Homo sapiens: one gene and its partner. The protein of the gene in region 1 interacts with the protein of each later gene in a pairwise test. Each region holds a gene or a part of one and is shown on either strand. Other genes may lie near its edges.

Region 1 (3,896 bases):
ATCAAAATGACCAGTATTGAATGTGCTTACTTCCAGAGGTGACTACCATCCTGAATTGTGTATATTATGCCTTGTTTTTAAAAATAATTTTATCAGATATGTATACATCCCTCAAAAATGTATTGTATGGTTTCTGTTGTTTTTGAGTGGAAAAAATCATATTGGGTATAGTTTCCTGGGACTTGCTTATTTCACTTGATGTTATGTTTCTGAGTTACTAATATTGGGTATAGATGTAAGTCATTAATTTTCACTGCTGTGTAATATTCCAAGTGTGAATATAACACAGTGTATGCATTCTTCTGTTAATGGGCATTTTGGTTGTTTCTAGGTTTTGCTGTTATGAAGTTATATACTTTTTGGTTCACAGTTGTAAGAATTTTTCTAATTTTCACACTGGGGTATATGAGCCCCAGAGGAGTAATGAAGATTTGCTAAGGAATGTGTGGGTACAAATGATGTTAATGAATCAGTTTCTAGATCATTACATTCCATAGGTACTCTTTCCTAAAAATGGTAATGCCTGAGGCCTCCTGCTAGTGCTACTTTCTTACCTTGTGTTTCTAACATTGCACTTTACATAAGACAGGCAAACCACAGGTTCTTGTGGAATCTTACTATGGCATTGCCCAAAGGGGGAAAACTCCCTTGGGGAAAACAAAGGGATTTTTTTTTTTTTTTTTTTTTTTTTTGAGTGAAGTTTTGCTCTTTTTGCCCAGGCTGGAGTGCAATGGCACGATCTCGGCTCACTGCAACCTCTGCCTCCCAAGTTCAAGTGATTCTCTTGCCTCAGCCTCTGAGTAGCTGGGATTACAGGCGCGCACCACCACACCCGGCTAATTTTGTATTTTTAGTAGAGACGGGATTTCACCATGTTGGCTAGGCACGTCTTGAACTCCTGACCTCAGGTGATCTGCCCGACTCGGCCTCCCAAAGTGCTGGGATTACAGGCCACCGCGCCTGGCCTACAAAGGGATAATTTAAAATACCACTATAGTGTTAGGGAAAGCCTCTTTTAATCCTGGCACTTCCCCATCCATTTCCTTAAGAGAGATATTTCCAATAAAGTTGCTTTTTTTTTTATGTTATCAGGGTATATTTTTTGGCCAACCATATGCTGGTAATAATTATACATTTAAAAGAATGAGATAATCAGTTTTACTTTAAAATGTTACTGTGATGTTCTAGAAATTCACCCTTTGCAATTATTTAATCTTATGGTGATATTTTTTAAATGTCATCTTAATGGGTAAAGGGTATGCAATTTTAAAAAGCACTTTTGGTGGTTTGCGAGCAAAAAAAAAAGGTTGAAATACCACCATGTTAATTTGTTCAGCAGCAAAAGAAAAAGAAAAGAGAAAGAAATACTGCCGTATCACTATAGTAAGCTGTTTGCTAGAAATGGGATTGCTAGATCAAGGGGTATGAATGATCAGCTTTACAAAATAATGTCAGATTACTTTCTGAAGGGGTTGTATCAGTTTGTACTTTGGCCAGCAGTTTTGTCTGTTTATATACTTTGATCAACAGTGTGTAAGAGTTACAGTTGATCTACAACCTCTCCAACACTTGTTATTGTCAGACTTAATATTTGCCAATGGAATGGGTATGAAATGATGCATCATTGTGGTTTTAATTTGCATTTTTTGTTATTAATGAGATTGAGCATCTTTTGTATGTTTATGAACTGTCTTTGTTTCCTTTTTATGAAATATCTAGTCATATATTTTACCCTTTGTTCTGATGAGTTGTCTTTTAAAACTGGTAACATCGATTATGTGCGTTGTAAATATCTTTTTCTGGTTTGTGGCCTGTCTTTCTACTGTTTATGGTGTATTTTGGTGAACAGAAGTTCTTAATTTTAACATAATCTGATTGGAACCTTTCTTGCCCTGGGCTTATAAAGACATTCCTCTGTTTCTTTTTAGAGGTTTTAAAATGATGTCTTCCACATTTAAGTTCATAATTTATCTGGAATTGATTTTTGTGTATGTTCTGAGATAGTGATCCACATTGATTTTTTTTTTCTCCTGTGTGGTTCTAATTATCCCTGTACCATGTATTGAATTGGCCCTCTGTTCACCAGTGGTCTGCTGTGCCATCTCTTTTACATGTTTAGTTACTACCTGCATGGGTCTGTTTTTGGCTTGCCTTTCTGTGTCACTTGTCACCTTGTCTGTCTCTGTGTTCATACCACACTGTCTTAATCATTAATACTATAGTTTTACCTGAAATCTCGGTATCTGGGGAGGACTTGAATCTCACCTATTTTTGGTCATTTGTTCTTAAGAATTAGCTTGTTACATGACATGAAAAACCCTGTAGGTATTAATTAGAATTAATTGAATCAGTTTGGGGGAGAATCGAAATCTTTAAGATTTTGATCCTTTTTATTTTTAAGAATATGGTATGTATCTCTATTTATGTAAAGTTTTAGTGTAGTTTTGTAATATTCTCCATAGAGGTCTTCCACTTTTTCATATGTTAATTCTGATGTTATTGTTTTTGTTGCTATTATAAATGGTGGTGTTCTTAAAGATTCTATCTTAACTTATTTATTGTTAGTAAATATTTTAACTTATTGTTAAATAGAAATTTAATGAATTTTTAAAAATATTGACCCTTTAGTCATCCACTTGATAAACTTACTACTTCTAATATTTTTTCTGAAATTCCTTTGTGTTTTCTGTGTGGATAATTATATCATTTGCAAATAGTGACAGTTTTAGTTCTTCTAGTTATTTTTGCTTTTAATTTATTCATTTTTTTGGTCTTAAATGTGCTGGCATACTTTATACTTACGTTCAATGGAAGTGATTAGGGTTGTTCATTAGAAGCGATTATAGTGGGCATAGAGTTCTTGTTCTCAATTTTAAAGAGAATATTTCTCAGCTGAGAATAACATTTGCTGTGAATTTTTGTAGATACCTTTGATTAAGTTAGGGAAGTCTTTTCAGTTGTCACATGCTTTTCTGCATTTGTTGAGAATATCTTGTGTCTTTTCTTCTTTAATCTGTTAAATGTAATGAATTCCGTTTTATAGATTTAAAACTGTTCATTTTCTTTTATATTCTTTCTTGAGATAAACCCAAATTGGTCTTTATAGATTATATTTTTATGAACTACTAGATTGAGTTTGCTCATATTTTATTTAGATTTTTGTGTCTGTTTATGGCTAGAATCACTTCTCATTTTTCTTTATTGGCTGTCTTATCTGACTTGGGTATTAAAGTTACACTGACTTTATACCATGAGTTAGAGAATAGTTCCTCTTTTTCTGTTCCCTGGGAGAGTTTGGATTGGAGTGATTTGTTTCTTAAAAGCTTGGTGGAACTTAACTATAAGGTCATTTGGATCTAATGTTTTCTTCTTGGAGGTTTAGTAGTAATTAGCAGTTGAACAGTCATAGGACTGTTCAGGTATTCTATTTCTTTTAGTCAGTTTTGGTAAGTTTTAGAAATTTGTCCTTTCATCAAGTTTATGGTATGGTTTTTTTTTTTTTTTTTTTTTTTTTTTTTTTTTTAAGATAGAGTCTCCCTCTGTTGCCCAGGCTGGAGTAGTGCAGTGGTGCCATCTCATTGCAACCTCTGCCTCCTGAGTTCAAGCGATTCTCCTGCCTCAGCCTCCTGAGTAGCTGGGATTACAGCCGTGCGCCACCATGCTTGGCTGATTTTTTTGTATTTTTAGTAGAGACGGAGTTTCACCATGTTGGCCAGGCTCTTCACAAACTCCTGACCTCAAGTGGTCTGCCCACCTCGGCCTCCCAAAGTGCTAGGATTACAGGTGTGAGCCACCGCTCGTGGTATGGCATTAATTCTCTTTTTAATCTCTGTTTTATTTGTATATGTGTTCCCCTTTTCTCATGTTGAATATTATTTATGTCTGACTTCTCTTTC
Region 2 (3,896 bases), on another chromosome or scaffold:
GATGTGATGGCTTACAAAAGACTTCCGCATATCATATCATTTTATGTAAAATAATCCTGAGAAACTGGCAATACAGATAGTATTATTCCCACTTTAAGGAGGAATAAACTGAATAAATAAACTAAATAAACTGTAGCATAGAAGAGTCCAGGCAAAGCCACAAGGCTCTTAAAACATTCTGATAGGAATCAGGTTAGAAACTGGTATAGAAACACACCAGTTAGGAACAAACATACCAGTTTCTAACCTATCCCCATTTAGGGATAAGATCAGGCCTATCCCCAATTAGGGAGTTAGAAAGATGGAAATCCAAAAGATTAAGGACACTTTGATCTTACAGTTTTCACCAGCAAAGCTTCTGACAGCAAGCATGTTGTGACTCCACGCAAATAGTGTCAATAAATTACACTGACATTAATGAATTTTCATAGAAAATAATTTTGGGAGCATACTCTATTAAGAAATTTGAATTCCATTACCTATTTTCTATTCAATGCCTTTAAAGACAGAATTTTCTTTTCCATTTTCATGTGATTGAAATTATTTTATAGACATTAAATATTTTCTGGGTAAATTTTATAATAAAAATTTTCCTAACCATAGCTCCTCCATACTGATTTTCTTCAATGGCAAATATTACTGCTAACATCAACATTTCCCAGTTCACTTTCGATATTTTGAATGTTACCAACAAGTTATCTCCAATTTATTGTCCATAACAAATTTAATTACACGCATTTTAGCCAATTTTAGTTTTTTTTGGGGTTATTTCAATCAGTAATTTTTATTACAAAACAGTTTACTATGAACTATAAAATTTTAAGCAATTTCTCCCACAGAATTAATCTATGAGCAGATTGGTTACTGATTATTACTGCAAATACTGAAGATATTCCAAATAACTTTGCTATCTGAAATAACAGCCTAGTCTCCTGAAGGATTAAAAAGGACCTATTTGGGTCAAAGTGGGGTATCTTAAAATGTCTATCTTTCTGTCCCAAAAGTCAAAAGCACCAACCTGTGTAAATGATTACTTTGGAGAGAAATGATACACAGTTGAATATGTTAAGGTGTGAAGGAACTTCAGAGGTACTCTAATGTCAGAAAGATGAATGAAATTGATGTAGTAATTTCCAAATAAGAGTTACATTATAGGTATCTCCTCAAGTAGACTCTAAATTCCTACAGAACAGAAACTTAGACTTTTCTACGTTATTCAATACTGCTTATAGTCCTCAAAATTAATACAGAATTAATACAGCCAGGTCATCAAATTAAGGCAGTATATTAACTGTTAATCAGCTATGTATTTAACTTACTCTGTCACTACCTTAAGCATATAAGTCAGTATGTTTCTTCACATACCTTTTCTTTCATAGGTTTTAGGTCTACTTCCTCCACCTTTCCCTCTAATTGGTTCTCTAGTTTTTTAACTTTCCTTTGGAGTTCTTCAATTAGACTTTGTTTATTATCTGTCAGGGGTTTGCCCTAAAAAATAAAATGTAACTTTATATTTTTACAAATAAATGTAAAACAAAATAGACAGTAAATATTTCAATTATATAATAGCAACTTTCTGAAGCTATCACTGACCATACTTTCTAAATGACACTTAATACATAAGATAATCTGGTAGCTGCTTCTGCATTTTAATACAACATACTAATATGCTACTCTAGAACTATAAACACAATAGAAGTCACAAAAGAAATTAATTACATTAATCAAAGTGATTTGAAAGTCAGTTTTAACAAATACCATAGATAAAATGATAAAGTAGAAATAAACTACTACCTCTATATTGTAAATCAGACATTATCAGAGTTAAATATAAAATTACCTGTAATCCACTGGTTAGTCTTTTAATTTGCCTTTTCAGTTCATCATTCTCTTGATCAATTTCCTCTTTCTCTCTAAGTATTTTATTATAGGCTTTTTGTTTCTTTTGCAGTTCATTATTTAAGTCATTCAAATTATCAGTTAGTGAGTTTTCTCTGTTTTTACTTGTTTTAAGTGCTTCTTTCAATTTTAAAAGATTTTCATTTAAATCTTCAACTTGTGTCTAATAAGAGAAAAAGAAAGGTATTATTCATGACTCTTCAAGAAGTATCAATGATAAAAGGAACATAAAACAGAAAATATACCATTATAAGAAAAATTCAGTCTGAATTTTTAAGTACACAAGAGAAAAAAAATAACCACAAACTACATATATTTTTCCATATTCATGTCAAGTCTACCTTGAGGAAAAAAGTCGACTTTGAGAAAAAAAAAAAAAACTAGTGTAAAGCAATTCATCTTCAACAAACACCCACAAACAAAATTTTATCAAATATGCACGTTTCATTTTGGCTGAATTAATTAAACAAACAAGTATATAACAATATATATGACAACGTTTTAAACACTATGAAGCATAAGAGTAGTACAGAACAAATCTCTGACTTGAAGTAATTTCTAACCTAGTTTACAAAGATAAGATATAAAAGGGTAACTTACAATACTAGACAATATGTATGCCACTAGAAAGGAGTTCCTAGCTGTCCTATGGTGAGAATGATGGGGACACACTGTATGTTTCCATCTATAACATATTCTGGAAAAGGTGAAACTATGGAGACAGTAAAAAGATCACTGGTTGCCAGGGGTTTGGTGAGGTGCAGAGGAAGGAATGAAGAAGAGAGGCACAGAAGATTTTTAGGGCAGTGAAAATACCCTGTATAATACTATAATGATGGATACATATCATTATACATTTGTCTAAACACACAGAGTGTAAAATACCAAGAGCTAAAATAGAGGTAAACTTGGACTTTGGGTGATTATGATGTATCAATATAGGTTCATCAATTTTAACAAATGTACCACTTTCAGGGTAGGAGATATACAGGAAATCTCTGTACCTTCCTCTCAATTTTGCTGTGAACCTAAAATTGCTCTAAAAAAATAATAAAGTCTTAAAAAAAATCCTAAGTAAAATATTTCTTAAATTTAATTTCATTAGAAACAGTAGTTCATAATGGCCTATCCTTTCCTAATCCCCAAGATGATAATCAGTAAATGAGTATCATAAAGAGACTTATTGTTGAAAAATGCATGTGTGTGTCTATGTCTAGCCACCAACAGTGCATTATAAATTCCCTATTCATCAACAAAATTACTATATATCATAGTGAATTCTCTTCCAATAGGAATTATCAGAAATTTTGTTACATTAACACGTGTTGATGTTCACCTTTAGCTCTCTAGTATGTCGATCAACGATTTGTTGAACATTGAGATGGGCCTCTTTTTGAGAAGTTGCAGAAATAATACGTTCTTCAGCAGCTGCTGTCATTTCTGCCCGGAGTTCTAAAAGTGCCCGACTAAGTGCCTAAAAATTAACCAAAAAAAAAATGTAATTTTTAAAGGAAAACTGACATTTTATATGAATATATGATATAAAAAATAAACAAGCTTTATTACTTCCTACTATTTTTCTAAAATATTATGAGTTTAATGGAACATATTTCACAAATTAACAACTCAACTTTTTCAAATAAATCTTTTGTAATTACACTCAATTCTTTCCACATTGAATGTGAAAGTTCAAAATCTTAATAATGATTTTGAGAACTCAGCATTAAATCAAGCTATTACAAAAAACAGGTATGTTTTGTTTTCAAACATCCAATTTTAGATATTTATATTACTCACTTACTACATCCTTCCATATGAAATTAATTGAATTTAGGTAGACAACAAAAGGACTAGGAAAGGCTTAAAGTTTACCCATAAATTTCATAGCTAGCACAGAAAAACACCAGCATCTTCTAAAACAATTTAAATAGATCAAATCTGAGATAAACTAAAAAAAACCCTAATAAATCAGAATACACTGACCAACTCCTTCTCAC

What was found. Proteins that work in one complex are often made in the same cells at the same time.
Region 2: the proteins of TTC3 (region 1) and CEP290 interact in a two-hybrid assay, tested with the Homo sapiens proteins (one large-scale study listed by BioGRID and IntAct).

Annotation. Positions count from the first base shown.
Region 1 is NC_000021.9:37,076,029-37,079,924, forward strand, and holds part of TTC3 (E3 ubiquitin-protein ligase TTC3), read left to right. Parts: intron 1-3,896. UniProt on the Homo sapiens protein: E3 ubiquitin-protein ligase which catalyzes the formation of 'Lys-48'-polyubiquitin chains. Mediates the ubiquitination and subsequent degradation of phosphorylated Akt (AKT1, AKT2 and AKT3) in the nucleus.
Region 2 is NC_000012.12:88,075,857-88,079,752, forward strand, and holds part of CEP290 (centrosomal protein of 290 kDa), read right to left. Parts: intron 3,374-3,896; coding exon 3,236-3,373; intron 2,063-3,235; coding exon 1,841-2,062; intron 1,489-1,840; coding exon 1,366-1,488; intron 1-1,365. UniProt on the Homo sapiens protein: Involved in early and late steps in cilia formation. Its association with CCP110 is required for inhibition of primary cilia formation by CCP110.